Homo sapiens: one gene and its partner. The protein of the gene in region 1 interacts with the protein of each later gene in a pairwise test. Each region holds a gene or a part of one and is shown in the gene's direction. Other genes may lie near its edges. The genes, in order: PLXNB3 and BTBD3.

The links.
Region 2: the proteins of PLXNB3 (region 1) and BTBD3 interact in a two-hybrid assay, tested with the Homo sapiens proteins (one study listed by BioGRID and IntAct).

Annotation. Positions count from the first base shown.
Region 1 is NC_000023.11:153,750,477-153,767,248, forward strand, and holds the start of PLXNB3 (plexin-B3 isoform 1 precursor), read left to right. Parts: upstream 1-13,772; 5' UTR 13,773-13,828; intron 13,829-14,994; 5' UTR 14,995-15,059; coding exon 15,060-15,104; intron 15,105-15,682; exon of another isoform or gene 15,683-15,734; coding exon of another isoform or gene 15,735-15,848; intron 15,849-15,906; exon of another isoform or gene 15,907-15,995; intron 15,996-16,396; coding exon 16,397-16,772. UniProt on the Homo sapiens protein: Receptor for SEMA5A that plays a role in axon guidance, invasive growth and cell migration. Stimulates neurite outgrowth and mediates Ca(2+)/Mg(2+)-dependent cell aggregation.
Region 2 is NC_000020.11:11,912,105-11,927,095, forward strand, and holds BTBD3 (BTB/POZ domain-containing protein 3), read left to right. Parts: upstream 1-5,788; 5' UTR 5,789-6,171; coding exon 6,172-6,497; intron 6,498-6,981; coding exon 6,982-7,072; intron 7,073-7,613; coding exon 7,614-7,732; intron 7,733-10,529; coding exon 10,530-11,562; 3' UTR 11,563-14,491; downstream 14,492-14,991. UniProt on the Homo sapiens protein: Acts as a key regulator of dendritic field orientation during development of sensory cortex. Also directs dendrites toward active axon terminals when ectopically expressed.

The DNA of each region.
Region 1 (16,772 bases):
TGGTCCCAAGGAGCCAATGTCCCGCCTCAGCTTGCACAGGGGCTCTAACCTAACCTGCCTTTCCCAGAAACCTGACCCCAGTTGACAAGAGCAGGATGTTGCACCATGATACGTCGTGGGGTCAAAGGCTACCAGGCACCAGGAAAAGAAGCCATTTGAAATACCGCCTCCTTTCACCAACCTGACATCTCCACCTCTGCATTTCAGGAAAAGAAATACATCCAAAAGAATTTTCCCTTCACATTTAATAATTACAAAAATTGTGTTATTTTCCTCAATTACATGCTAGGAAAACTTGTAGGAATTTTGCCATCTCGAATAAATGTTTTAACACTTAGGGGAAAAAAAGTAGTGGGAGGCAGCCAGTGGCAAAGTTGGGTTTGCACAAGAATCGGAGGCACCAGATAACTCAGAAACAATGTGTGTGTATGTGTTGGGGAGTGCAGAACAAGATGATTTATTGGAAGTCTCTATAAGAAGCTGCTGTCCTTGCACTGGCTATGCAGATTAAAAAAAAAGAAGAAGAAAACAAAGAAGATGCTAGATGCCCATATCTCTGCCCCACTTTGTACAGAAGACCAGAGATAGAACAGAAGGTCTGTGGAGATGCAAATTTAAGCCACAGTAAAATACCCTTTTTTTTTTTTGAGACGGAGTCTCACTCTATCACCCAGGCTAGAGTGCAATGGCACAATCTCAGCTCACTGCAACCTCTGCCCCCCAGGTTCAAGCAATTCTCCTGCTTCAGCTTCCCAAGTAGCTGGAATTACAGGTGCACGCCACCACACCTGGCTAATTTTTGTATTTTTAGTAGAGACAGGGTTTTATCACGTTGGTCAGGCTGGTCTCAAACTCCTGACCTCAGGTGACCCACCCACGTTGGCCTCCCAAAGTGCTGAGATTACAGGCATGAGCCCCCGCACCCGGCCCACAGTGAAGTATCTTTTTGCATCCACTGATTGGCAGAAATGTAAAGTCTGACAATACCAAGTGTTAGCAGTACTACAGAGCAGCAGGAACTCACACTTCCCCGGGGCAGGCAAACTGGGACAACCACTTTGGAAAACAGTGAGCATTATTCAGTATAGTTGAAGATGTGCACATTTAGAAGCTAACAATTTCACTCCTAGACACCAGATTGCATGTACAAAATCGCTCACAGCATCATTGTTTATAATGCTTAAAATAATGTTTAAATGTTTTTTAATAGGCAAAAGCCAGAAGCAACCCAAGTGTCCATTAGCAGAAGAACAGATAAAAGATCTATGTTAGAGTCATACAATGAAACAGTATACAGCAATAGAAATGTCCCAGAGTCAGACCATAGAAGTCTAAAAAAATAAATAAATGAATAAACTACGGTTATGTGCATCAACTTGGATGTCTGTCACAAATGTCATGTGGAGTGAAAACAGCAGGTTATAGAAAAATATATCCAGTATGATTCCACTTATAGGGAAGTTAAAAAAAAATAATGCTGCAGGATTTGAACAACACTCTAGACCAGGGGTCCCCAACCCCAGGCCACTGACCAGTACTAGTCTGTGGCCTGTTAGGAACCGGGCTGCAGAGCAGGAGGTGACTGGTGGGCAAGTGAGCATTCCCGCCTGAGCTCCATCTCCTGGCAGATCAGCAGCGGCATCAGATTCTCATAGGAGCACGAACCCTATCATGAACTGCGAATGTGTGGGATCGAGGTTGTGCCTGATGATCTGAGGTGGAACAGTTTCATCCTGAAACCATACCCCCCAACCCTCCATCCATGGAAAAATTATCTTCCACGAAACTGGTCCTTGGTGCCAAAAAGATTGGGGACCACTGCTCTAGAGCAAATGGACCTAGCAGACATACACAGAACATTCCATCCACCAGCAGCAGAATTCGCTTTCTTCTCAGCTGCACATGGGGTAGTCTCCAGGATAGACCATATGTCAGGCCACAAAACAAGTCTTAACAAATTCAAGAAGATCAAATCACATTAAGCATCTTTCCCAACCGCAAACAAGAGATCACTAAGAGAAAGCAAACTGGAAAACTCACAGATTTGTGGAAATACACAACACCCTCCTGAACAACCAATGGGTCAAAGAAGAAATCAAAAGGGAAACAAAAAAAAAAATCTCTTGAGACAAATGAACATGGAAACACAACATACAAAATGCAGTGTGCAGCAAAGCAATTCCGAGAGGGAAGTTTAGAGCCTTAAATGCCTCCATTAAGAAATAAGAAAGAGGCTGGGCATGGTGGCTCACGTCTATAATCCCAGCACATTGGGAGGCCAAGGTTGGTGGGTCACTTGAGGCCAGAAGTTCAAGACCAGCCTGAGCAACATGGCGAAAACCCGTCTCTACTAAAAATACAAAAATTAGTGGGCGTGGTGGCACATGCCTGTAGTCCCAGCTACTTGGGAGGCTGAGGCACGAGAGTCACTGGAAAAAAAAAAAAAAGAAAAAAGAAGTAAGAAAGATCTCAAATAAACAACCTAACTTTACACACCAAGGAACTAGAAAAGGAAGAACAAAATAAGCCCAAAGTCAGCAGAAAGAAGGAAAGAACAAAGATCAAAGCAGAAATACATGAAATAGAGACTAGAAAAATAACAGAAAAGATGAATGAAACTAAGAGTTGGGATTTTTTTAAGATAAAATCAACAAACCTCTAGCTAGACCAACTAAGAAGAGATAAGACTCAAATAAATCAATCAGAAATGAGACATTACAACTGATACCACAGAAATGCAAAGGATTGTAAGAAACTACTATGAATAGGCCGGGCACGGTGGCTCAAGCCTGTAATCCCAGCACTTTGGGAGGCCGAGGCGGGTGGATCATGAAGTCAGGAGATCAAGACCAGCCTGGCTAACACGGTGAAACCCCGTCCCCGCTAAAAATACAAAAAATTAGCCGGGCGTGGTGGCGGGCGCCTGTAGTCCCAGCTACTCGGGAGGCTGAGGCAGGAGAATGGCATGAACCCGGGAGGCAGAGCTTGCAGTGAGCTGAGATCGTGCCACTGCACTCCAGCCTGGGCAACAGAGTGAGACTCCGTCTCAAAAAAAAAAAAAAAAGAAAAAAAAAAAAGAAACTACTATGAATAATTATACTCCAACAAATTGGGTATCCTAGAAAAAATGGATACATTCCTAGGCACATCCAACCTACCAAGACTGACTTAAGAAGAAATAGAAAATCTGAACAGACCAATAATGAGTAAGGAGATTGGACAAGTAATAGAGTCTCTCATCAAAGAAAAGCTCAGGCCTGATGGCTTCATTGGTAAATTCTACCAAACAGTTAAATAACTAATACCTATCCTTCTCAAACTCTTCCAAAAAACTAAAGAGGAGGGAACGCTTCCAAACTCATTTAATAAGGTCAGAAAATTCCCTGATATCAAAGCTGGACAAGAACACTAAAAGAAAAAAAGCTACAGGCCAATATCCCTGATGAACACAGGTGCAAAAATCTTCAACAAAATACTAGCAAACCGAATTCAATAGCACATTAAAAGGCTCATTCACCATGAGCAAGTAGAATTTATCCCTGGGATACAAGGGTGATTGAATATATGCAAACCAATAAATGTGATGCACCACGTTAACAGAATGGAGAATAAAATCATTTCTCAATTGATGCAGAAAAAGCATTTGACAAAATTTAACATTCTTTCATGATGTAAAAAAAAAAAAATTAGCTCTTGGCCAGGTGCAGTGGCTCATGCCTGTAATCCCAGCACTTTGGGATGCCGAGGCAGGAGGATCTCTTGAGCCCAGGAGTTCAGACCAGCCTGGGCAACATAGCAAGACACCTCTACAAAAAAAAATTTTTTTAAATTAACCAATCATGGTGGTGTGTGCCTGTAGTCCCAGCTACTCTGGAGGCTTGAGCCCTGGAGTTCGAGGCTACTGTGAGCCAGGATCATACCACTGCACTCCAGTCTGGGTGACAGAGCAAGACCCTGTCTCAAACAAACAAACAAATACAAATTAGCCAGGTACATTGGTGCGTGCCTGTAGTTCCAGCACTTTGGGAGGCCAAGGCAGGAGGATCACTTGGGCCCAGGAGTTTAAGACCAGCCTGGGCAACATAGGCCCTGTCTCTACCAAAAAAACAAAATTAAAAAGAAACTCTCAACAAATTAGGTATAGAAGGAATATACCTCAACATCATAAAGGCCATATATGACAAGCCCACAGCTAACATCATACTGAATGGTGAAAAGCTGAAAGCTCTTCCTTTAAGATCAGGAGCAAGACAAGGATGCCCACTCTCACCACTTCTACTCAGCATAGTCCTGGAAGGCCTAGCCACAGCAATGAGAAAAGAAAAAAAAAAACATTTAAAAACCCAAATTAGGCCAGGCTCGGTGGCTCACACATATAATCCCAGCACTTTCGGAGGCCGAGGTAGGCAGATCACCTGAGGTCAGGAGTTCGAGACCAGCCTGGCTAACATGGTGAAACCCCATCTCTACTAAAAAGACAGTAATTAGCCAGGTGTGGTGGTGCATGCCTGTAATCCCAGCTACTTGGGAGGCTGAGGCAGGAGAATCACTTGAACTTGAGAGGCTGAGGTTGCAGTGAGCCGAGATCACACTACTGCACTCCAGCCTGGACAACAGAGTGACACTTCGTAAAAAAAAAAAAAAAAAAAAGAGAGAGAGAGAGATTAAATTGTCTCTGTTTGCAGATCACACAATCCTGTATGCAGAAAACCCTAAAGACTCCACCGAAAAATTGTTAGAATTCAGTCAAGGTACAGGATACAAAATCAGCATACAAAACAATAGCTTTTATTTTTTATTTTATTTTTTTTTTTTTGAGACAGAATCTTGCTCTATCACCCCACCTGGAGTACAGTGGCTCAATCACAGTTCACTGCAGCCTTGACCTCCTGGGCTTCTCCCACCTCAGCTTCCTGAGTAGCTGAGACTACAAATGTGCACCATCATGCCTGACTAATTAGTATTAATATTATTGCTATTATTGAGACAGGGTCTTGTTTAGTTGCCTGGGCTGGTCTTGAATTTCTGGGCTCAAGTGATCCTCCTGCCTTGGCCTCTCAAAGTGCTGGAATTACAGGTGTGAGCCATCATGCCTCACCTAGTAGCATTTCTATATGCTATATGCTAACAATGCACTTTCTTTTTTTTTTTTTTTTTTTTGAGACAGAGTCTCTGTTGCCCAGGCTGGAGTGCAGTGGCACTATCTCGGCTCACTGCAAGCTCCGCCTCCCGGGTTCACGCCATTCTCCTGTCTCAGCCTCTCCGAGTAGCTGGGACTACAGGCGCCCGCCACCATGCCCAGCTAATTTTTTGTATTTTTAGTAGAGACAGGGTTTCACCGTGGTCTCGATTCCTGACCTTGTGATCCGCCCACCTCGGCCTCCCAAAGTGCTGGGATTACAAGCGTGAGCCACTGCGCCCAGCCAATGCACTTTCTAAAAAAGAAATCATCAAAGAAGATTTATTTTGTTATCCAAAAAGGAAATCAAGCCAACAATCTCATTTATAATAGCTATAAAAAATAAAATACTTAGGAATAAGTTTAACCAAGGAGGTGAAAGACCTATACACCGAAAACTGTAAACCACAGATGAAAGAAACTGAAGAAAACACAAATAAATGGAAAGATACCCTGTGTTCATGGATTGGGATAGTTAATATTGTTAAAATGTCTATACTACCCAAAGTGATCTACACATTCAATGTAATCCCTATCAATATTCCCATGAGATTTTTCACAGAAATAGAGAAAGCAATTCTAAAATGTATGTTAAACCACAAAAGACCCCAAATAGCCAAAGCAATCTTGAACAAAAAGAACAAAACTGGAAGACTCATGCTATCTGATCTCAAAATATGTTACAAAGCTATAGTAACCAAAACAGCATGGTTCTGGCATAAAAACAGACACATACACCAACGTAACAGAATAGTGAACCCAGAAATAAATCTATGCATTTACAGTTGATTGATCTTCGACAAAGGTGCCAATAATACATGATAGACAAAAGACAGTCTTGTCAATAAATGGTGTTGGGAAAATTGGATATTCACTTGCAGTAGAATGAAATTAGACCCTTATCTCACACAATGCACAAAGATCAACTCAAAACGGACTGAAGATTCAAATGTGAGACCTGAAATTAGAAAACTACTAGAAGAAACTTACGTGAAAAGCTGCTTGGCACTGGTCTGGGCAATAAGTTTTTCAATATGACACCAAAAGCACAGGCAACAAAACAAAAACAGACAAATGAGTTTGCATCAAACTAAAAAGCTTCTGCACAGCAGAGGAAGCAATCAACAGAGTGAAGGAGACAGCCTATGGAATGGAAGAACATAGTTGTAAACCATCCATCTGATACAAGGTTAATACACAGAACACACAAGGAACTCATACAACTCAATAGCAAGCAAATGTATTTTCTAACCCAGTTAAAATAACCCAGTTACACCTACTATGTACTCCTAAAAATTAAAAATTGAAAATTGAAAAAATAAATAACCCAATTTAAATGGGCAAGGACCTGAACAGGCATTTCTCAAAAGAAGACATACAAACGGCCAATAGGTCTATTAAAAAAAAATGCTCAACATCAGCCGGGTGCAGTGCTCACGCCTGTAATCCTAGCACTTTGGGAAGCCGAGGTGAGTGGATCACCTGAGGTCAAGAGTTCAGGACCTGCCTGGCCAACATGGTGAAACCCTGTCTCTACTAAAAATACAAAACTTAGCCAGGTGTGGTGGCATACGCCTGTAATCCCAGCTACTCCAGAGGCTGAGGCAGGAGAATCACTTGAATCCGGGGGGCAGAGGTTGCAGTAAGCCAAGATCGCGCCACTTCACTCCAGCCTGGGCGAAAGAACAAAACTCCATCTTAAAAAAAGAAAAAAATGCTCGACATCACCAATCATCAGGGAAATGCAACTCAAAACCACAATGAGACACCACCTCACTCAAATTAGAATGATCGTTTTCAAAAAGACAAAAGAAAACAAACTTTGGCGAGGGTGTGGAGAAAAGGGAACATTTTGGAACAGTATGGAAAATGGTATGCATGGTGGTTCCTCAAAATATTTAAAGTGAGAATGACCATACAATCCAGCAATCCCATTTCTGGGTATGTATCTAAAGGAAATGAAATCGGTATGTCGAGGCAATATCCACACTCGCATGTCCATTGAAGCACTACTCACAATCGCCAAGATATGGAATCAAACGAAATGCCCACCAACAGATGAATGGATAAAGAAAATGTGGTACAGATACACAATGGATCACTACTCAGCCTTTAAAAAGAAGGCAATCCTGCCATTTGCAACATGGAGGAACCTGGAGGACATTACATTAAGTGAAGTAAGCCGGGCACAGAAAGGCAAATACTGCATGACGCTGCTCACGTGGAAAGTAAAAATGTCAGCCTCATGGAAACAGAGCAGAACAGTGGCCGCCAGGACTGGGGTAGGGGAAATGGGAAAATGCTGGTCAAAGGGTACCAAGTTTCAGTTATGCAGGATGGAGACGTTCCAGAGATCTGATGTACAGCATGGTGATTCTAGTTAACACATTTAAAAAAATAAAACCAAAAAATTTGTTGCAAAAGTAAATAATTTATTGTTTAAGGCTAATTCATATTTGGGACAAGTATAAAGAAAACCAAGGAAAGGCTAGGACTAACTGCGAAGGGAAAAAGAAGGGTCCATGATGGCTGTCAGTGGGGATGATTCATCTAAGCAGCATATGCTCTTCCGTGTGTATTAGATTGAACAAGATGAAACTGCAATTTTTGTAGGTTAACAATAAATGAACATTAAGCAACGTCATCTGGTTTTGACCCAAGACATTTATTAATAATAAATCAATGATAAAATAAAACCAAAACACTTTATGCTAATAAACTTGAAAACTTAAACAAAATGGGCATGTTCCAGCCAGGCGCGGTGGCTCACGCTTGTAATCCCAGCACTTTGGGAGACCGACGCAGGTGGATCACCTGAGGTCAGGAGTTCAAGACCAGCCTGGCCAACACAGTGAAACTCCGTCTCTGCTAAAAATACAAAAATCAGCTGGGCGTGGTAGCGGGCACCTGTAATCCCAGCTACTCGAGAGGCTGAGGCAGGAGGATTGCTTGAACCCAGGAGGCAAAGGTTGCAGTGAGCCAAGATCATGCCACTGCACTCCAGCCCGGGCGACAGAGCTAGATTCTGTCTAAAAAAAAAAAAAAAAAAGCATGTTCCTAGAAAAATATTGTTTATCAAAAATTGACTCAAAATAGAATGATTCATCCTAAATTCAGATAGAATCTCAAGGGGCTCCAAATAACCAAAACAATTCTGAAAAAGGAGAACAAAGTTCGAGGACTCACACTTCCTGATTTACAAAATAAAACATATTACAGTGTGGTCCTGGCATAAAGACAGAGACAGAATATAATCCAGAGCCCAGAAAGAAACTCTCAAGTATATGGTCAGATGATTTTTGACAAGGGTATCAAGGCTACAAATTGGGAAAAGGGCAGTCTTTTCAACAAATGGTATAGGGGAAACTTGATATCCACATGCAAAAGAATAAAGTTGGAGGCTGGGCATGGTGGCTCACACCTGTAATCCCAGTGCTTTGGGAAGCCAAGGTAGGAGGATTGATTGAGTCTGGGAATGGGAGACCAGCCTGGGCAAAGTAACAAGATCCCATCTCTACCAAAAACATTAAAAATTTGAGGCTGAAGCACAAAAATTGCTTGAACCCGGGAGGCAGAGGTTGCAGTGAGCTGAGATCACGCCACTGTACTCCAGCCTGGGTGACAAAGTGAGATCTGTCTCAAAAAAAAAAATTAAATTAAAAATTAGCTGGGCATGGTGGTGAATGCCTATAGTCCCAGCTACCCAGGAGGCTGAGGCAGGAGAATTGCTTGAGACCAGGAGTTTGAGGTTACAATGATTATGCCACTGCACCCCAGCCTGGGCAACAGAGCAAGACCTGTCTCAAAAAAAAAAAAAAAAAAGATGGCAAATTTTGTGTTATGTATTTTTTCCCACAATAAAAAAATTACTCAAGAAGAAACAGAAAACCTAAATGGTCCCATAATTATTACAGAAGTTGGATTCATTGTTTAAAATCTATAGGGGGACAGGCAGGAAGCTACAAAAACAAGGAAGGCCAGGCCAGATGCGGTGGCTCATGCCTGTAATCCCAGCACTTTGTGAGGCCGAGGCAGGCAGATCACCTGAGGTCAGGAGTTCAAGACCAGACTGGCCAACATGGCGAAACACCGTCTCTACTAAAAATACAAAACTTAGCTGGACGTGGTGGTGCATGCCTGCAGTCCCAGCTACTCGGGAGGCTGAGGCAGGAGAATCGCTTGCACCCAGGAGGCAGAGGTTGCAGTAAGCCAAGACTGTACCACTGCACTCCAGCCTGGGCAACAGAGTGAGACTCTGTCTCAAAACAACAACAAAACAAAACAAAACAAAACAAAAAAAACAAAGAAGAGAAAAGAAAAGAAACAAAACAAAAAACAGAAAATAAAAAACAAGGAAGGCCTAGATGGTTTTACAGATGATCTCCAGCAAACATGGAAGTAACTGATCATCTCCATCTTAGACTAACTGTTCCAGTGAACAGCTGAAAAAGGAAATACTGCCTCAACTCACTTTACGATGTCTTGATACCAAAACCAGACGAGGATAATAATACGAGGCTAAAAAAAAAAAAAAAAACCACCCAATCCAGAATTGTATATGAAAAAAATACATCACGCAAAGTTGAGTTTAGTCCAGAAAATACAAGAGTGGTTTAACATTTAAAAATGAATTAATGTAATTTGCCACATTAACAGATTAGAGGAGGAAAACCCTGTGATCATATTAATGCATTCAGAAAAAGCATTTTATAAAAATTCAACATATAGCACACTAGGAATGGGAGGGAGCTTTCTAAATCTGATAAACATATCTACCGAATGCTCCCTGCAAACATCATACTTAATAATGGAACACTGAGAATGCCTCCTATGCTTTTTTTTTTTTTTTTTTTTTTTTTTTGAGACAGAGTTTCGCTTTTGTTGCCCAGGCTGGAGTGCAATGGCTCGATCTTGGCTCACCGCAACCTCGGCCTCCTGGGTTCAAGCGAGTCTCCTGCCTCAGCCTCCCAAGTAGCTGGGATTACAAGCATGGGCCACCATGCTCGGCTAATTTTTTTGTATTTTTAGTAGAGACAGAGTTTCTCCATGTTGGTCAGGCTGGTCTCGAACTCCTGACCTCAGGTGATCCACCCACCTCGGCCTCCCAAAGTGCTGGGATTACAGGCGTGAGCCACCATGCCCAGCGCCTCCTATGCTTTCATTCAAAGGAAGTAAAAGCAAGAGAAAGCAAGTCCAGGGAAGTAAAGCAAGGAAACGAAATCAGCCGGGCACAGTGGCTCACGCCTGTAATCCTAGCACTTTGGGAGGCCAAGGCAGGTGGATCAGGAGTTCCAGATCAGCCTGGCCAACATGGTGAAACCCTGTGTCTGGTAAAGATACAAAAATTAGTCAGGCGTGGTGGTGGGTGCCTGTAGTCCCAGCTTCTTGGGAGGCTGAGGCAGGAGAACTGCTTGAACCAGGGAGGCGGAGGTTGCAGTGAGCCAAGATTGTGCCACTATACTCCAGCCTGGGTGACAGAGCCAGACTCTGCCTCAAAAAAAGAAATCAAAGCTAAAAAGACTGGAATAGAAGAAACAAAATGGTCATTACTTGCAGATGATAGGATTGTGTACGCAGAAAATCAAAAAGAATCCACAAAGAGAACCCAAACATAATTATTAGACTTAATATGAGAGTTTACAAGGTTACTTGATACATAGAAATCCATTGTTTTTCTATGTACCAGCAACACACAGTCTGAATGGGAATTCAAAAGAAGGTAGCCAGGCGCAGTGGCTCACAGGCTCACGGGCCAGCACTTTGGGAAGCCAAGGCGGGAGGGCCGCTTGAGTCCAGGAGTTTGAGACCAGCCTGGGCAACATAGCGAGACCCTGTCTCTACAAAAAAATTACAAAATTAGCCAGGCACTGTGGCGCCTGCCTGTAGTCCCAGGTGTTTGGGAGGCTAAGGTGGGAGGATCACTTGAGCCCAGGAGGCTTCAGTGAGCCATGATTGCGCCAATGCACCCCAGCCTGCACGACAGAGCGAGACCCCGTCTCAAAAAAAGAAATCAGATTGATAAATGCTATGATATTAAAATTAAGACTTTCTGTTTATCACATGATACATCAGCAAACTGAGAAGACAAGTAACAGGTAGGCCGAAGACATACACCCCAGGGATTGGTGTGGAAAATACAGAACACCTGCAAAGTGTAAGCCAAGACATGCACGGGCATTTGACAGAAGAAATGAAAAGTGCTGCAATATGGCCGGTGGTCAAGGAATGCCGATTCAAAACCCAGCAGGGCACCATTTCACACCCACTGTATGCGCAGAAACTCTCAAGTCTGCTCTCTGGTGTACGTGAAGACGTGGTGCAGCAGTGGCAGTGGGGGTGTCCGCTGGGATGCCAGCATGGAGAGCTACGTCTTCAGCCCAGCAAACGTGAAGCCCACGTCCCACTGACCCAACGAGTCCCCTTCCAGCATTGAGAAGCCTGGCACACAGCAAGGAGACGACACCAGATCAGTTGACGCTGCCTTCCCATCCCTTGGTGAGGGGACCCGGCCATTGCAGGATAAATCCAGCACGACTCCCCTGACATAAGATGTTCCGGTTCCCCAAACCAGCCTAGATCCTTTCTGGTTACACCAGCTTCAGACCAGGGGCTGCCATAGCCACGCCTCTTATCTGCTCAGAAAGCGTAGAAGGTGCATATGCAGGCCATATACACACATATTTATGAAAATGGTGCTGCCTGTGGATGGATTTATTTTCTTTTTTCTTTCTTTCTTTTCTTTTTTTTTTAAAGACAGAGTCTTGCACTGTCACCCAGGCTAGAGTGCAATGGCACCATCACGGCTCACTGCAGGCACCAACTCCCAGGCTCAGGCGATCCTCCCACTTCAGCCTCCCAAGTAGCTGGGACTACAGGCTCGCACCACCATGCCTGGCTAATTTTTAAATTTTTTTATAGAGATGGGGGTCTCACTATGTTGCCCATGCTGGTCTAGAACTCCTGGGCCCAAGTGATCCTGCTGCCTTAGGCTCCCAAAGTGCTGGGATTACAGGCGGGAGCCACGACGCCCAGCCTGATTTATTTTCTTCTGTGGAAAGGAAGGAGAAACCCATTCCCCATGCCAGATTGCAGGCGTCTGTCTCATCCGGGGCCAGCAAGGACATGTGTGTGTGTGTTGGGGTAGGCATGGGGGGAAGGACAGGGAGAGGGAGAGAGGCCAGCTGGCTCCCCCAAGCCTCCCCTCCTGGAGCTTCTAAATCCCTCCCTGGCTCCTTCAAGGCTGCCTGGCCTTCCTGTTGGGGAGAGACCCCTCGCCGGCTGCTCACTCGCTTTTTGGTGGTCCTTCCCACGGGCCTGCCTGGTCTGCCTCCACATCCTCAGCGGCTGCAGGTGAGAAGCTGTGGATCTGGGGCCCAGTGGTCCAGAGCGTGGCCCGTGCCAGAATGCCCAGGTTCAAATCCCATCTCTGTGGAATGCACTCTGAAGAAACGACGTCAGGTCATGGCCCTGGGCAAGTTACCCACCTCTGTGCCCCATTTCTCTCCATGCAGGTTGGAAAGAATGACACAGCTGCTCAGGGAAGCACCCATACCCCGAGTCTGCTGGGCCTTTGAGCTCCAGGGCCAACACCTGGCCCTATACCCTGGCCGCCCCCAGGGCTCCAGCCACCTGAGCCAAGCTTCTCACCCCCAGGCCTCCCCAGCCCCATCACCATTTCCTCCTCCCTCATGGGCCCCTCAGTCTTACCGTCCTCCCACTTCCGCCAGCCCCTCTGTGGATGGCCCTGCCACAGGGGGAACAGTGCCCCAGCAGAAAAGCCCCAGGGTCGCCTGGATTCTCCTGCCTTCGCCTCCTGCCCTGGGTCCAACGCACAGTCTTCAGAATGCTGCCTCCCCAGAGCGCCTCTAGAACGCGCCCGCCTCTCTCCATGCCCATGACCACCACTGGACCAGGCCTCCCCACATTCTCTGCCCCAGTGCCACCAGCTTGCAGTTGCCCATGGCGAGACAAGTTCAAGTTCTCAAGCCTGGCCACAAAGACCCCACCTGATTTGCTGACCTCCGCCACACCCTGGGAGACGGCCCTTGACCAACCTTGTGTTCCAGTCGGTGGGAAACACTGGTTTTTCCTCAACGCCACGTGGGCATGTCACGTCCAGGCCTGGCCTGGGGTAGGCCTCAGCTCCATCTCCTGCCCAACGCCTGCCAAGGTTCATGGTTCAAGGTCATGTAGCCTGACGGTTAAGTGAAGGGGCCCTGTGATTGACTCAGCCTTGCCACATACTAGCTGTGTGACTTTATTCAAGTTTCCTAACCTCCTGTGCCTCAGTTTCCCAACCTGTGTTTGTTTCTGGATGGTGCCAGTGCCAAGCCCAAGCCTGGCATCCAGTAGGTGCTTCGTGCCAGGTTATGGAATGCCCACCCAATAGGAGGGCGCTGCCGTCTCTCACCTGCCAGGTGCCCACGGTCAGTACTCCATCATGCCCGCTGCGGCCAGCAGAGGGCAGCAACATCCTGCCCTGTGCCATTGGGCAAAGGGGCGGGCGGAGAGAGGCTGGGCTGCCTGGCCGGGCTTGTTGGGATGAGTCGGACTGGGCACGATTGCATTGTGGGGAGGGAGGCTGGGGCTCTGTGAGACGTGCTCCTGGCACCGCCAGCTGCTACTTGGCCCTCGCCGGTGGCCCACCAGGTAGGCAAGAGCTGGGGCAGGCTTGGGCTTGGGCTTGGGGTGCAGGGGCTACCAGCCTCAGGGCAAGGCATCAGGGTCTCAGGGCCAACTGGCTGGGGTCAGGCAAGAGCGCTCGGGTGTCGGCCCAGCCTGACGACGGCACTAGGTGTCTGGGAGCACGGTGTCCCCCAAGTGGTAGCCCTGGGGTTAGGAGGTGGGGAACCATGTTTCTTCCCCGAAATGGGAAAGCCAACGCCAGCCTCGGGCAGGGTACAGGGTAGAGAGGCTGCCCGCCTGGCTCCCCACCCCCACAGCCACCCAACTGGCCCAGCCAGGTGACAGCAGCCCACTGCCACCTTGCCCTGGAGCCTACTGCTGCCGTGCTGTGGGGGAGGCAGAGACCCCATCCCCAGTGCACCTGCTCCTGTGCCACTGGCCAGGGTGGCCTGTGAGGGTGACAGGGGGTCTAGCTGCTAGGTGCCCCTCCCTTCCCCATCCCCTGCATGGATGGCATCTAGGCCAGCAGGACGGTGCTTCAGAGGGTGGGGTGGACAGCCCCGGCCTGTGGACCCTCTGCCTCAGCCCATCTCAAGCAGCCTCCTCCCGTGGTCCTGCTCGCTGCCACCATGCTGTACCTGGCACCACTTCACCAGTCCCCAGGGGCAGGGCTGGGCTGGGGGTGTGGAGGAAGATCTTTTGGACAAAGGCAGGCATTGAGGGCCAGGACTGGCACTTCACCCAGGCCCCAAGGCTACCAGCCGGCATTTGCAGGGGCTCCAAGGTCCACCCCGTGCCCTTCACAGGGACCCGGGGAGCCAGGGAGGGGCATGCTTAGTGACACAGGGGTTGCAGGGCCAGAGGGGGAGGGCTGGCTGGAGGAAACCCCGGCCCTTTGTCCCCGGATCCCGGGGGTGGCTCCCTGAGGGTGGGAAGTGGCAAGGAGCCCCCTGTCCAGAACAGCCCAGTGGGGGTGACAGCACTAGCGAGTGGGGCCCTGGCCTGGCCTCTGGACAGAGGGAACATTGTTGTGGTGGAGGCAGGGCTGCCTTGGCCTGGCCACTATTGACAAAGCTGCCAGCTGTGAGGGAGCCCGGTCGCTAGGCCCTGGGCGCCACCCCCACCGCCGCCCCTCCTTCCCCAGGCCAGCTCGAATGGGGCTGAGCCTCGACTGTCTCCCTCCCACTCAGGACAATGCCCCCCCGCAGCCATCTCATGCCCATCGCCACTGCCCTGGGGCAGCTGAACTGAGCGTATGTGCCACGCCGCCCAGGAGACCCCTCTGCTGCACCACTTCATGGTAAGTGCCCAGGCCCGGTGTCCCCAGAAATGTTCCTGGGAGGGGCAGGGTAGGGCAGGATGGCTGTGGCCAGGCCCAGGACATACAGGCTGCAGCCTCCCTCATGGCAGACACTGCCCCAGATAGCCCGGGGTCCGCAGGAAGTGTCCGTGCTCTTCCTGCCTGTGTTCCTGAGATAAGCGGCTCCTGGGCCTTCCTCCAGGCGCTGCTCTGCCCTGAGTCGCAGCGGCCCCACTCCTGGTCGGCATGTGACCACACACCCAGGGCAGCATCTCTCTGTGGAGGGCAGGAGGGGCCAGAGAAGGGGCTGCTCCCACCTCTCACCCTCGGGGGCTCACCCCGGGGTCCCACCAGGCACACCCAGGAACCATCTCCAGTCTGGCACCCCTCCCTGCCCCTTCCCTGACCCCTCCCCCAGCCAGCTCTCCTGGTCTGCTCTTCTCCTGGGACACTCCTACACTGAGGCCCCCTGTGCCAGGCCCTGAGAGACCCAAACTGCTGGGGCCCATGGGGCAGGAGCAGGCCTCCCCGCACCCCTGAAGCCTGTGTTGTCTCTTGACACCCCTGGCTTCTCCCAGCACCCCCGCTGCCTTGCCCCAGTGCTTCCTCGCCCTGGAGCTGGGCGCCAGCATGGAGCTCACCCCTGCCTCTTCGCTGACTTGCTCCTTGCTCAGCCCGCGGCTGCCTGGCTCTTTCCCCCAGCTGCGGAGGGTTCCTCCTTGCAGCCGGCCCTGGCTGCCCAAGGCAGGTTTTCTCTCCCTGTCTGGTCCCTTGGGGCACACGGTGGCCTCACTCCTCTCACCTGACTTAGATCTCTCTTGTCTGGGTGGTGGGCGCAGGGGCGCGCTGTGACACAGCTTCCGCCAGCCTTCCAGCTCCCGCGGCCTCCCTCCCTCCCCTGCCCTCTCTCCATCCCTGCCCCCTCTGTGACTCACAGTCCCTCTGTTAGCGCTCTTGCGGCTTTCCAGGACCTGCCCCCCTTCAACAATCTACATGCATATAAAGTAGGAGATGAAAGAATTCTGTCCTTGTGTGCTTGTGCGTGCGTGCATGCACCCCTCCCTGCCTCTTGCTCCAGCTCTTGGACACTGTCTTTGTCCCTCCTTATGTCCCCCTCTCTCTGTGCCCCCTCTGTCTCCTTGTCTCCGCTCACTCTCTCTCATTCTCCATCTCTCTGCCTCCCTCCCTCCCTGGCCCTGAGCACCCTGGCCTCTGTCCACCCCACCTTCCACCTTCCTCTGGTCCTCTATCTGCCTTGCGCTCCCACTGCCCTGACCTGTGCCCTCTCACAGGCCCCCGTGATGGCTCGCTGGCCTCCCTTCGGCCTCTGCCTCCTCCTGCTGCTGCTGTCCCCACCGCCACTGCCCTTGACAGGGGCCCATCGCTTCTCCGCACCTAATACCACTCTCAACCACTTGGCACTGGCACCTGGCCGAGGCACACTCTATGTCGGCGCAGTGAACCGCCTCTTCCAGCTCAGCCCCGAGCTGCAGCTCGAGGCCGTGGCTGTCACTGGCCCTGTAATCGACAGCCCTGACTGCGTGCCCTTCCGTGACCCAGCCGAGTGCCCACAGGCCCAGCTCACTGACAATGCCAACCAGCTGCTGCTGGTGAGCAGCCGCGCCCAGGAGCTGGTGGCCTGCGGGCAGGTGCGGCAGGGCGTGTGTG
Region 2 (14,991 bases), on another chromosome or scaffold:
GACCATGAACCTTATACTGTGGACAGCACTGAGGTATGCCTTGGCCAAATACTTGGCCTTAGTTATCAACCTTGGTGCTGGAATTCAAACTGGGTCATTGTCGAGAGAGGCCAAATTGAGTTGCTAGTGAGATATGGCTGGGTGGCTAGATGGGCTCCTTGCAGGAGGCTGTCTCAGGAAGTGGGCACAGCAGTGAATCAGCCAACAGGTGGCCTCATGGAGGTTTGAAGTCCACAATGGGCACCCAGCCTGAAGTGTGGGTTCAAGTGCAGGTTTGGAAATAACACTGTGGGATTTGGACATTGGGTGTGGACCGGATCACAGTGCACAGCACAAATCTTGCTTATTATTGAACCTTCCCTGCAAAATCAGATTCACAGCAAAATGGGACCTGCTTGGCCCATAGGTGGGGCTAGAGGAAGCCTGCAGATAGGATGAAATGTCAGTAGCTGTGCAGTCTGAAAAGAGTACAAGGATGAGGAGCTAGATTAATCTTTGAGATTTTGTGTTTTAGATGATTGCATCACAAACGTTTCCTGCTTTGGGCACAATTGCTGCTAATGGTGAGAACTTACCTTTGTAGACTGTTTTTAACTAAAGTGCTTTCACAAAACATATAATCTTGCCTTCACAATAAACCTGAGGGAGAAGCTGGGTCTAATTACCCCATTTGGCAGATGTGGAAAATGAGGCTCACAAATACTGACCTTAAGGTCACTTGTTGTTAGCTCTTGCTTTTTTAGCTATGCTATGCTTCCAGCGCTTGACTCCATATTTATTTCCAAATTTAGAAAGCATATATAGTCTGTTTTCCAGCAGCTTCTGCTGACTTTGGGGACTGCCAACATTTTGTTGCTTATCTTTTTACCTCCCAAATCAAAAGCATAATTTTTGCTCAGTATTGAAGGGACAAATAAGCAAAAACAAAACACTATTCCCTCATAACTTACCAGATTAAACTACTCTCCTCTGTTAGGTTATGTTAATCATTTTTGGAAGTGATAGGTATTTCTTCAGTCTACCTTACCTTGTTTAAACCTCTGTTAACCTCACTGCTGTTGCTTTTTAGCGGCCTTGTAGTAAACCATGTACAAGTCCAGACAAGGAGTCCAGAGTTAGAGCAAGTTAAACAAGAGTTGCCAGCATTATTAGTTGTTGACATAGAAGTTGGTGTTAACCGTGAATAGCTGGTTTCTAACTTTATTTTACCTGGAGAGCCTCTTCTGTTTTTGAGCAGCGTCCTCACTGCAGTTCCTTCCTTCCATCTCATTCCACAAGTATCCTTTCAGCATTCTTGCCTGTAGTGTGCCCCTACAGGGGTGCAGACTACATATGTTCATGGTTTTCATCTTTGTAAACTTTAAAAGAAAGCTCTTCTTTTAAAGTAGATTAGAAATATGACAATTGAGCATTCTGTAAGTGTGTGAGGTAATTACTGTGAGTGAATATTAGAGTGAATGAAGCAAACAACATGACAAGCCAGGAGATCCGCCTCGTAGTCCAGGTGTTGCCCCACTTCTTTACTGTGGAATTTTCACAAACCCCTTATACTTCTGACACCAGTTGCCATACCTGTGAAAAAAGAGTTGCATTAAATGATTTCTGGAGTCCCGTTCAGTTTCAAACCTCATTCAGGTCTGCAAAGTGAATATGTCAGATTGTATTAAATAAAGGTAGGATTGCTGACAAACCTTCCAGTGGTGAAAAGGATGATCTAAGTGAGCTTAAATTCTGTGGATAATTTTGTTATTATTGGGAATTGAATGGAAATAGGTTAACAGTGATTCAGCTTTCTGGCAATTATAAAATCAACTGAAACACACTATTATTAGCTAACTTTTTAAGTTTGGTTTCTAGTCTTGCTCACCGCCGTATGCCCAACACCTAATACACTGCATAGTCAGTATGTTTTATTTTGGGAATACTTTCATACAAACTTGATGGACTTCTTGGCCTATTTACCTCATTAGGGCAGACAGCTCTAAAATTCAGGAAGTGTAGAAACAAGTGATAAAATGCCTATTGGAAAGAAATTTTAGGAGTAAAATGTAGCAGTAGACATCAGGCTGCTATCCTTTTTTACCCTTCAACCCAGTGGGTGATGTTTCTGGGTTACAGACTCAACAGATGGAGTTTTAACTATTTATGTTTAATCAAGGAGGAAAAGAAGCCATAATTTGTATTTAATGTAGTAGACTATAGAAATGAAAGAATAAAGTGATACCAAAATTTTGTATATTCAAATCAATCTTATAGTTTTATAACATTTTAACCCTAACATTTTATTGTATTTTGGGTTGCAATTACTCATGGCAGATGAAAGCCATGGCTTCTCTTTCTAGAAAAATAAATGCACACATACTGCCAATTTCACCGACAGCTTGAGGAGTTTCATGAACTTGCCATCATCTGGTGGTCCCTAGTCTGAATTCTTGATAGAAAATAACCTAGTATGTTCATGTATACATATGTAACTAACCTGCACATTGTGCACATGTACACTAAAACTTAAAGTATAATAATAATAAAATAAAAAAAAAAGAAAAGAACCTAGTGTGTTAAACCTTAAATGCCCTTAGAAATAACCTAGACCAGTGTTTCTTAAACTGTGGTCATGAGATCAGTTGAATGGATTATGACCAACATTGAAAAGAAAAGAAGAAAGAAGAAAATAGAAAATATCAGAGTGTATATCATAACATGCTAAGAGTAGGTTTTGTTTTTTGAGCCATGTCTTTCCATTTGTATGCCTGTATGTGTGTTTATGTTTAGTACTAAGTCAGAATATAAAATGCATTTCTTACTGTGGATTGAGTGTAAAGTTTGAAAAACATTCATTCTGGGTGAATCTCTTTCATCTTATAGCTGAGGAAAACTGAGGCCCTTAAAGGCTAAATGATTTGTTCAAATACTCGCCTTTCTCTATTTTAAGTGGCCCAGCCAGGACTGAACTAGATTGGTTGCTAATTTTACCATGCTACATTGCTAATTTGTTGAAATACAATTGTGAAGTAGACCATTTAAAAGTACTAAGTGATTATCTGCTTCATAGTTGACATTTTTTAATTCCTTATTTTTCCTGCCGAAATCATCACTGTCATTATCTTTTAAAATAATTGGGGCTGGCGCTTCCTTTCCAGAGAATATCTTGGTCCCTCTCAGTTGGCTGTCTGCACACCTCAATCCTAGAATTTGACATTTGGGGCCTAATCAGAAGAATTTCAGAACAAGATGTGAGGGGTTGTTAAGTTTTTAATGTCCAAACTAAATTAAATTATTTTGAGTTATTTTCAATTCACTTAATAGTTGAATGCAACATATGGCACCAGATGTTGGTACTGGATCATTGGGAAGACATCTAGTAGTCAGTAGTTATCTATGTGAAGTTTTTTTCAACCTTGAATACTGTATGAAATGCAGATTCTGATCCAGAGTCTGGCTGAGATTCTGGGTGACTAATAGGCTCCCTGTAGATGCTGCTGCTGATCCTTCAACTACATTTTCAGTAGCAAGAACCTGCATTACTTGCCTTATTACCGTGGTAAGAAAAAGTAGCCGTCAGATAATTTTTCTGTCTTGATTTTAAACAGCCATGCTCATCAGTCCTTACATACATTGGAGTAATAATGCCCTTCTTTGTAGCACTCTTGTAGATGATTCAGATTTAGCGCTACTTCATTTAACTAGTATTGTCAGAATTTTCTACAAAACTTATTTTTCTAAATAACTGATATCTGTAATTTTAGAAAACATGTTCTACAATATTGCATACTTCTCTTTCTCAAACTGTTACATCCACTTTACTTTTTTTCTTTAACTTAGTGGTGTAAGAGCCATGTGTTTTGGAGACTTCTTGGTGATGGGTATTGAGCCATATGCAAAATGAGTAAAGATCACAAACCCTTCTAAGTTCTTGTATCTGTGTTTTATGTTTTTTCTATTTTGTCTCCATCCAGCTACCAATTAATAGTATGTCTGCCTAAAAGCAGCTGGTTTCCCTTTCCATTCTAATTGATTACTTCTGACCTGAAAAGCCAGATACTAGATTTGTTAGAAATATTTATGAGATTAATCCCAGTCAGAAAGGCCTACCTGGCATGGGAGCTTTCCTGCAAGGAAGTGGTCAAGGAAGTTCAGTGGCACTTGAGCAAGAGAGAAATCCTTTAGTGTTAACCCTATTCTGAATAATTAGGTCAATAGGAGCTTACTTGTTTCTTCATGACTTTCTCTATGTGCTTTTTAAACTGGTTTCTAGATCCCTCTCTAACATTGTGTGTTAAAGTGTGTATGAAGATGATTTGGAGGTATCTGTATGTGTGTGTTCTGCTGTTGAGAACATGATAATCATAATAAATAAGCAGTGCTTCAGGATCCATCTAAAATGGAGACAGGTAACTGTGCTACAGGCCCTGGTTCTCTTACAGAGGCTTTGCAAATGGTTTTAAGAATAATAATAACAACAATAAAGAGGATATTTCTTGGTTCAATTTAGTGTTCTAGGGATTTAAAGACTGATTTCTGGTAACCGCCTTTAGCAGATTATTAATTATAACAATAACAATCGTAACTCTTATTTGCTGAGCCCTCACTGTGTCAGGTAGTCATTATTCAGACAAATGTTAAAACAAGGAGGGCTGTGGTCATGAAGGGTGCATTTGCCTGAGGGGTAGCAAATGGCTGCTGTGCTTTGAACAAATGAGCGTGATCCAAATAGATAGGGGTGAGATTAAATATTTTAATTAGTCCCTCTTTACAATAAATAAGCATATGCAGAACCTATTGCCGGTGTTTTTGTTTTTTTTACTCACCAACGCTAGAAATGGTTGGAGGATTCACACCTACAAAAATCAAATGGTAGCTTATATTCTTCTAATTCAAAGCAGAGAGAACCTGTTTGCATTTTAACTAGGTGGAATCCGAACATTTATCATTTTGAATAGCCTTGTTATTTGTTCTGTCTTAGAAGTTGTGGATTATATTCTTTAAAATTAAGACAAGACTAAATGTAGCCTTAACAGTTAAGTTGAATTTTGAGATCCTGAACATGGCCCCATCTGAAATATTTTTAGTGAATTACAGCCTTTGAACATTGATCATCAGATTTGTTTTTATTTGAATCTTATTTTTACTTCTAGAGTTTATCTTATGCTTTAGTGTACTTAGGTGTACGGGTATAATCTTAATCTAATTAACAGTATTTTGTGACCTGAGACACCTGTCAAAGACCATTATAGAAGCTAGAAAACATTGGGAGGTAAACTGAACACATGGCCTCAGTTCTCTTCTTTAGCACTAGACTATGACTTGCACTCAAAAGAGGCTAAGAAAAAGAAAAATAACGTCCTTTGCCTTTAAAGTGTAATAAATGTGTTTTGCTATTAATAGCCCTTTTCAGTTTATAGACTGGAGGATTTTGTTTTAAGTATTTGAAACTAAATGCTGCTGGGAAAAAGATTTTAGTAGAAATATAGATATCTGTCCCTACCCTTTGTTAATTGATCCTGCTTAACTGGGGACATAATGTATGTCTACTGAAGAGAAATCTGTGGGCATAAACTCCTCCCTTCCTGTTGTCAAATATATTTCATATGTTATTATCTTGTTTAAATATACAGTAGACAAGAAAATGCAACTGCTGTTCCTTTAATATCAGAACTATGCATGTTACAATAGGTGTCACTGTTTTGCTTGGTCCAATCATGATTGGTGACTTCAGCTATTGGCTCGGAGCACTGGCTGTCTGACTCCATCTGCAGGGCTGTAATACCTACTCTCCTCCGATCCATTCACCACACAACTTCAGCCGGCTGAACAGACTCACGCAGCTCCAGCCCATCTTGCTGACCTAATTCAGAAAAGAAGTGCTACAGCTCTGTGCCTGTCATCTTTGCAGTGTAGCATTTTCAGGTGATCTAGGAAACAGTTATTTTTATGAGCAAATAAGAGAAACAGGAATCATGATGGGGATATATTTAACAGACCCAGTACTGGATAAAACTTAAAGCCAGTTTCTATTCAACATAGTGAAAAGGTCACCTTGCCTGGCTGAGAAAAGCAGCAAAATATCAGCTTTGTTGGTTTCAGTTAACCTCTTAGCCCGGGCTAATCTCTTTTCCTTGATGTTCAAACCAATTTGGGATATCTAACTCTAAAGAGAGACACACTGTACTCATGGTAGATGACAAGGAAAAGAACATGAAATGTCTCACCTTCTTCTTGATGCTTCCAGAGACGGTAAAGAACAGGTCCAAGAAAAGCTCAAAGAAAGCAAATACCAGCAGCAGCAGTAGCAACAGCAGCAAGTTGCCACCAGTTTGTTATGAAATAATTACCTTGAAGACTAAAAAGAAGAAGATGGCTGCTGATATATTCCCCCGTAAAAAGCCAGCCAACTCCAGCAGCACCAGCGTCCAGCAGTACCACCAGCAGAATCTCAGTAACAACAACCTTATCCCGGCCCCAAACTGGCAGGGTCTTTATCCCACCATTAGAGAGAGGTAAGTGCCGCGCTAGTCTATTTACTTTAAAAGTTTTCCTGTGTTGAAGTTTCTGCTTTTGCAAAACCTGTAATGTATTTGAACACAAATCTGTTTCCTCTTTTCCCAGAAGCTTTTTATTGGTAATGGAAAATTGCCTTGTATCTTTTCCAAAACAGTACAGCTGTTTTCCTCTTAGATAAAAATGTTTTTGCAAGCTGTAACATTCAAGTGACAGGGTTGTCTATGGGCCATAGAAAATGGGAACCTTTTATTTGTCCTTAGCTTTATTAAAAGTTTGTATAACTTTTATTTTAAACTTTAGTTACTTCCCTTATGTTTGCAATGATTATGAACAGTTTAGTTAGAACCTTTATTTGTTGTTTTGCCTTGAAGTTACTGGACTGTTGCTTAGCTTGCAAGTCTTTTGTGGGTTTTGTATGTTGGGGAAGGGGATGTTAAAAATGCAGGCTGCTGTGAATTAATGAGTTGCCTCTGTTTATAGAAATGCGATGATGTTCAATAATGATTTGATGGCAGATGTACATTTTGTGGTTGGGCCACCAGGTGGGACTCAACGGTTGCCAGGACACAAAGTAAGCAACAGCTGCATGACCGGTTTAGTCCTGACGTTTACAAAGAGGGACCCTTTCCATAAGCCTGTAACTTGGTGTGGGCAGCTTGCCGATGTCAGGCAGTGCATGTTTCACTCGATTAGGGAGAGAGCGCACCCTCTCCAGAGGGCTTTGGCCACGCTTAATTTTTTCTTTGTTTCCTTCTATACTGCTTTATATCTCACACATCCCCTCTTAACTCTCCAGACATGGGAAGTTGTTGTGACAGGTCAGGAAAGTCGTATGTTTACCCTTCTCCTAGAAATTAGTTATGTAAGCTATTATTGTATGTATTTAGTAATGAGGGGACATGTGCATTAATCTCTTAAAGCTTTGAAATAATTAGCAGCATGGTCTTATGCTTCCATGGCAAGCTACCCTGTGTACCTTGGCTTTTTCAAAGCAGTAGATTTTAGGTACGCTATGTTTACTAAACCTGATTGCCTAGTGTTGTTTTTCTGCATTGATTTGCTGGAAATGCCTTCAATTTAGTGTATGAAATAAGATTTCCCTTTCTACACAGTATGTTTTAGCTGTTGGGAGCTCTGTGTTCCATGCGATGTTTTACGGAGAACTTGCAGAGGACAAAGATGAAATCCGTATACCAGATGTCGAACCTGCTGCTTTTCTCGCTATGCTGAAGTAAGCATCATTCGTGTGTTTGGAAAGAGTTTGTTTATGCTGTATTTGTACCCTGCTGGTTTCACAGTTAAATTTAAGTTCTGCATAACAGAAAAGAAGACTGATGAAGAAAGAGGGTGCTGCTTACCTTGTAAATGTTTTCGGAAAAGAACACTTTAGCTTTCCGTGGAAAGCATATGGAATTATGCAGCATTTATAATCGCACCTTGACGTAGAATTTGGGAGCAAGTGGCATGTATAGTGATGATTTTTAACAACTTAAAATTAAAGACAAATAACTTTCTGGTATTAGCATTATTTAATAGAAGATGTTCTCTCTGAAAGCATTGTGTGTGAAAAAGTCTTTAAACAAATGTTTTTGCTTCACAATTTCAGAAGTTAAGTACCTTATTTAAGTAACACCAGTTGGGAGATTTCTGAGTATTCTAAGAGTTATTGTCTCCTAAGAGCAAATGAAAAACTTACCATCTGTTGAAATAATCTGATCTTTGTGTACACATACATATACATACTCATATAAAATCAGACACTCTCAAGGGTAAAAAGTACTTGCATTTGACATTACAGGGGAAATCTTAGAAAGATATGGATAGTCTCGTACAGTTTCATGTGGATTTATACAGAAGAACTTTCATTGGTAATACAGAAGTATGAAACTTAAAGATACGTTATATATTTATAAAAAAGATAGTTTTCTGTCTGGTGGGTCTTCTGCAGGCACCAGTATGTGTTAAACAGGTTATAGAATCAGCTTCTTTATCATGTACGGTACTAGACAGTGTGGTAGTTCACCAAGTGATCATAATCTAATTATTATTCTAAGTAGTATTTATATGATTTTTCCTAATCTTTATTCTAGCACAGCAAAGTGTATTACTTTAAGGTTATCTGTTGCTCTAGGGATTTCAGTTCATTGGAATAAGTAAAATGTTTGTTGAAAAAAGTATTCAGTGGGTCAACAAGTTGGACAGTACTCCTACATATAGTTAAAATGTTGCCATACATTGTTTACTGTCTTCTGAAAAATAAGTACTGTAGTTAGTTCTAGAACTTAAAAGTATTTAATTCATTATTCATCTTACAGTTTTGAAATATAATTGTCACTGACAAGACCTTCACAGTAGGGGATAGGGAAATTAAAGGCAAGTGAGCATGTGAAGTACCAAAATGTAAACTAATCTGCTACTTTTAACCTTTGTAATCTTTTGGAGATATATGTACAGAAACCAGTTTTACCTGCAAGTATCCCCACTGCATGAAGTCAGCTTTGTATTTTTTATAGTGTTTTCTGTTGCTGAGGAGATTGCTAGCACTAGTTCAGCATTTTGTCTTCACTGCAGTCAAGTAGGATGTTGTATCATTCCTGATATATACATAATTAGGAAACATGAACAAGAATGGCAGAGAATTACATCTCACCTAAGTCATTTGATGAATCATTTGACAAGTATCTTTTCCCACAGATGCATTGCCTATAGCAGATATTGATAAAGCTTTATAAAATTATACATGCAGTCCACAAAATGTGGTAAGATCAGAAATGAGTCAGGTGCCATTTGCTCTAGTGCTGTAGTTGTGAAAGCGGTGGCCTGCTTCATCGAGTATGAGTAGCCAGTATTCCTGGGGTTGTCAGAAAAAGAGGACAGCTGCTCCCTTGACAGTTCCAGGGTAAGAGCTCGAAAGTGCTGACCATGCTCTAGGATCCTCCCCAGGGTCCTGGCTCACAGTCAGAGCATCACTGAGCCGCAGGTGTACTATCAAGTGGCCTTGCCATCAGTAGGTGACTTCGCCTATCAGAGAAGAGAAAGGTTCCTGTGAGCAAAAAGGCAGGTTTCATTTGTGCTCGTGGACATTTTTCTCATTGCCATTCTTGTGTTTTACTTTCTTATAGAAGCTGTTGCTAATTTCTTAAGTTTTATGTGTTTCACTAAGGTGAAATACAATAACTAAAGGAAAACTCAAGATAAAGTAGCTGTAGACCTTAGGTAGAAGAGAAGCAGATGATGACTACCTTTACGTGCCTCTTTGGGAGACTGCCACTGTCTCCCAAAAAGTGTATCCTGTGAAGTGTTTTATATCCTGAAATAAGGACAGTTCACAGAAGCACAGGAATAATACATATTTAAGCTTTCCTACTTTGTCTTTTAATTAAATATATCTGGAAATAATGTAATCTTGAATTCTGAAGGTAGAAGGAATGTGTGGAGAAGGAAGAGTTTTGAGTTTAAAAAACAAAAACAAATAAAAAGTCTGTTGGATTCTATGTAAAGTTAACTGGACGATAGCATTGCAGTCCATACTTTTGATAATCCATTGAACTTGGAACTATTTGGAAAATATTAATCTCAGGTTTTATTTTGTGCTTAGGAAAACTCCAAAAGCATGAAGATGCAATAATTGCTCTTAAAACATAACGAGACTATTCTTGGTTAAATATAATGTAGTATATATAATAGAATTTTGCTATTTTTTTGTAATGTTGACTATTCAATATGCAGTTGTTTTTCAGTTTCAATAGCTTCTGTTTTGTTGAGATGACACTGAATGCAGCTTATAAAATAGAGGCTAGAATGGTAGCACAAAGTTAATATCTTTAATTATACAAACTTTACTACTGGGTTAAAATATTAATAATTTATTAATATGTTTCGAATGTTCCTTTACTCTGCAAATATGTTTGTATTAACTGTCACATAAGATGATGTTCTCAGAACAAACTTGAAAGTGGTTGTATCTTTTCTTGCTGGATGTACTCATTTTGTGAAAATTCCACTTACATGTTATGTGCTTTTTACAGATATATCTATTGTGATGAAATTGACTTGGCTGCTGACACAGTGCTGGCCACACTTTATGCTGCCAAAAAGTACATTGTCCCTCACCTTGCCAGAGCCTGTGTTAATTTCCTGGAGACCAGCCTGAGTGCCAAGAATGCCTGTGTGCTCCTCTCCCAGAGCTGCCTGTTCGAGGAGCCAGACCTGACCCAGCGTTGCTGGGAGGTGATTGATGCCCAGGCTGAGTTAGCTCTCAAGTCTGAGGGATTCTGCGATATTGACTTCCAGACACTAGAAAGTATTCTCCGTAGGGAAACTCTGAATGCCAAAGAAATTGTGGTTTTTGAGGCAGCTCTCAACTGGGCTGAAGTAGAATGCCAACGACAAGATCTGGCGTTGAGCATTGAAAATAAACGCAAGGTTCTAGGAAAGGCACTTTACTTGATCCGCATACCCACAATGGCCCTCGATGATTTTGCAAATGGTGCTGCACAGTCCGGGGTATTAACTCTCAATGAGACCAACGACATCTTCCTCTGGTATACTGCAGCCAAAAAGCCTGAGCTTCAGTTTGTGAGTAAAGCCCGTAAGGGCCTTGTCCCCCAGCGCTGTCACCGTTTCCAGTCGTGTGCCTATCGAAGCAACCAATGGCGCTATCGTGGTCGCTGTGACAGCATCCAGTTTGCAGTTGATAAAAGAGTGTTCATTGCTGGCTTTGGGCTGTATGGCTCCAGCTGTGGTTCTGCAGAATACAGTGCCAAGATTGAACTTAAGCGGCAGGGCGTTGTCCTGGGGCAGAACTTGAGCAAGTACTTCTCAGATGGGTCCAGCAATACCTTTCCCGTATGGTTTGAATACCCAGTGCAGATCGAGCCAGACACCTTCTACACAGCCAGTGTGATACTGGATGGCAATGAACTCAGCTACTTTGGACAAGAAGGCATGACAGAAGTTCAGTGTGGCAAAGTGACTGTCCAGTTTCAGTGCTCCTCAGATAGCACCAATGGCACTGGGGTACAGGGAGGGCAGATCCCTGAACTTATATTCTATGCTTGAAAACTCACTTCCTGAAGCAGCTTGAGCTCCAAAGTGCACATCTGGTTCCAACTTGCCTGATGCTTAGCTCATCTGCAAATATGTGATCAGTGCCGGTAATTTGTAATGAATGAAGCGGTAGGCAGGTTCTAATTTCTTTTAACCTTTTAATTATGTACAGGCAAAAATGCAGCATTCCGCTTTTAACTATCTGCTTAAAAGAGCTAACGTTCTTATTAAGGCTTTGTGGTTTTTAGAGTTGCATCTATGAACCTGGGGAGATTATGTGCTTTCCCAAGCGTTCCACCACCCTCTCAGTTTTGTCCCTCTGAAGATAATTTTGGATCACCTTGAATTTCCTTTTGGACGTTATTTGATGAACAGAAATAAAGTGATAACAAGAGTTATTTTTAAACAGAACTCCTCTTACCCCCCAAAACAGATAAACCTCAGTGTACAATTTTGAAAGAAGTTTTGCCTTGTAATGAGTAATAATTTAGAAAGTAGACAGTGGTTGTGTTTGGCTCTCGTTTTATTCCTTTTACATTTGTTGCTTCTGGGATTTAAAAAATTACTAAATTCATAAGATAGTTAGGTATTAAACACTTCAGAATATCAATGTAAAATTGGAAAATAAGGAACTGGGGGCATTTGTTTAGGCCATGACTTCTACAAGCAGATTTCTTTTCTTTTAGTTTAGAAGACAAAAAATTTCAATACAGATACTTCTTTTAGAAGTAAATTTTTAGATTTTATTGTCAGTAGAAAAAAGTTAAACTCCTACTAATTTAAACTAAGACAGTTTAAAAAGGAAGCCTGAAAAAGACTCATACTACAAATAATTTAATTGATGGCATATAAGAATATGCAGTTTGAAAAAGCCAAACTCTTCTCTCCACTTAGCTTTTGATCCCCACTGTTTGCTTATTTGTATAAGTCATACTGTGTAGAATTTCTATTTTCTTTTTCCCCATTAAAAGAGGACCAAACAATTCTTTATACAAATGGAGTAGCAACTAGTTTTGTAGCACTACATTTAATGTAATGAGATACCTTTGTTCATTTTTTTAAATTTGAAATATACTTTACCTGATCCACTTTGATTGTATACTATATTCTTTGTTAATTTTAATTTTGTCCTGTTCCTAGACTGCTAGAATCTGGCCCCTGGCCATCTTAAAGTGCCAACATATGCCTGCAGGGTTTATAAAAAATGGCCTGGAGTGACACATTTTATTATACCTAATATTCACTGCATCAGTATCACATCTAGCTCCCTTACTTGTCCACAGATAATGTAAACAAAGGAGGGAAAAACTTATTAAATTCTCCTTCGCTGCTGGCTTGTGCTGGTTTAGTGCCTGTGTCCCTGGCAGTGTCCAGTGTGTTCACTTCCAGTTGAAGTATCCATGTGTTTCTGGGCAGCTTTTCTGCTCAGTGTGATCCTGAGATGGCTTCCCCGCCGCCACCCAGAGTGTGGTCCTTGGCCGCCTCCTGCTCCTGCTCTGCAAGCCTGAAACTGGCTTGTCTGGAGCCAGGAGTTAGTCCTGGGGTGTGTGTGTGCCTGCGCACCCATGCGCATGCAAGTGTGTTTGCCAGCTCAGGAGCTGTCTCCTCTCTACCTGGCTAGTAAGAGGTGGGACAGTAATGGTCCTCCTGCTGGCCCCAGCAAGGCCCATGAGTGACTGCCCTGACGTATTCACTGTGCCTCTGGGCCACTTCTTCCCCTGTAGATGTGGGCTTGTTGCCTTCAGCCGGCTTCCCTGAGGGAGGAGAACACTGGATTATTGGAAATGTTTTAATCACTCTTGCCATTACCTACATCTATTAGCATAGATGATGAAAAGCTGTTACTGGTGATTATAGATGAGTATTTCCAGGACAACGTTCTAAAAGTACAATTATTTCTTATTGGGGAGATTACAGGTAGTTTGGCAAAGCATTGAAGTACAAAGGTACATTTTCAATTAAAAAGCACACTTCTACAAAAGATTTGGTTTTTAAATTATGGTTACACATTTCAGTAACTCATAGCTGCTGTGCAAATTGGTAGACCTTATAAGAAGGCACTTGTTTGTAAGCCAGAGAAGAAACTTTAATTGCATCCTATCAGATTGTTGAGGTGGGTGTGATAGTCTTCAGGTGCAGTGCGTTCATTCACTAACGCTCACTGTCAGTGCCCATGTTTGCTAGCTGCCTCCATGTGACTAGTGAGCTGCTGGTGAAAGTCGTGTGAAATCCTGTACACTGTGTATAGAATAATGTAATTTTATGTTAATTGTTATTACTTTAAAACATATCTACCATCTGATTGGCTGGTACCGAGAGCTGTGGGTAAAATTTGAAAATTGTATTTAGAATAAGAAATTTTACATTTTAAACCCTATTGTCCTTTATGCATTTTCAATGAAATGGAATGAAGGCTAATATGCTTGCTTTATTTACTTTTGTAATCTTGGATTTTGTAGCTTTTAAAACTAGAAACCATTGTTCTAACAAAGCAGGCAACTTTATTCTATAAACACAACTTTATTAAGCAGAATACACTGTAGATGCTTTTCCCCAACGTATCTGGCTGGCAGTCTTTGTCGTTGTTCATTCTGGGGATAAAGGGGAACTAGGCTAGCAGTTCTAATGTGACATTCTTTAAGCATATCTTAAAATAGTATTTAAGTAAATGGTCTAATTTCTACATAATTATTGCACTGAACTTTTTTGTTTATTAAGGTGTTTAAATAAGCTCAGCTAATTCAAGACACTGTAGCCACTTGTGCATCAGTGTGCTTGAATTTAGTAGCTTACAGCATTATTTATGAAGGAAAAAATACATAAATATGAAGTACCTCATGTTGAATGTTATTGTACTGTATTTTTAATGTAACAGTGCAGATCTTGTTAGACACATGAATGTGTATAATCATGTTAAATGCAAATAAAACTAGTTCATAGATTTGTTTTCCTTTAGTGCTTTTGTCACACCCTTGAGATAGTAAAAAATTCATGCTGGCACTTTTGATGCCCACTACGTTTTGCAGAGATGGTTTCGCAGAGGCATTTGTTAGCTAAGTGTTCAGATATCTTTGATCCCTAAAGAAGTAAAAATTTGAGGCAAAAGGATAACAGAACAATGAATGTGTTAATCACTTGCATTGTTCAAAGCCTGACTGTTAATGAGAGGGAATGAATGGATGCATTTATATTTCTATTATGGAATTCGTGGTTGGCCGGTATTCTGAAGCTATAGTTGCTCAAATGTCTGGATCTTCCTGTGCTAAGGGGGGTGTTGATACTGAATGACATCTGGCTTCTGATATGACCAATGCTGCTTTTTCCTTTGTTACAGTAGCTTAAGTCTAGGAATTTAAAAAATGGCACGTAAGAATTTTGAATATAGTTTTTATGTGCTCAACTAGTTTTCCATTATATTTCTTTATATCAAGTATTTATATA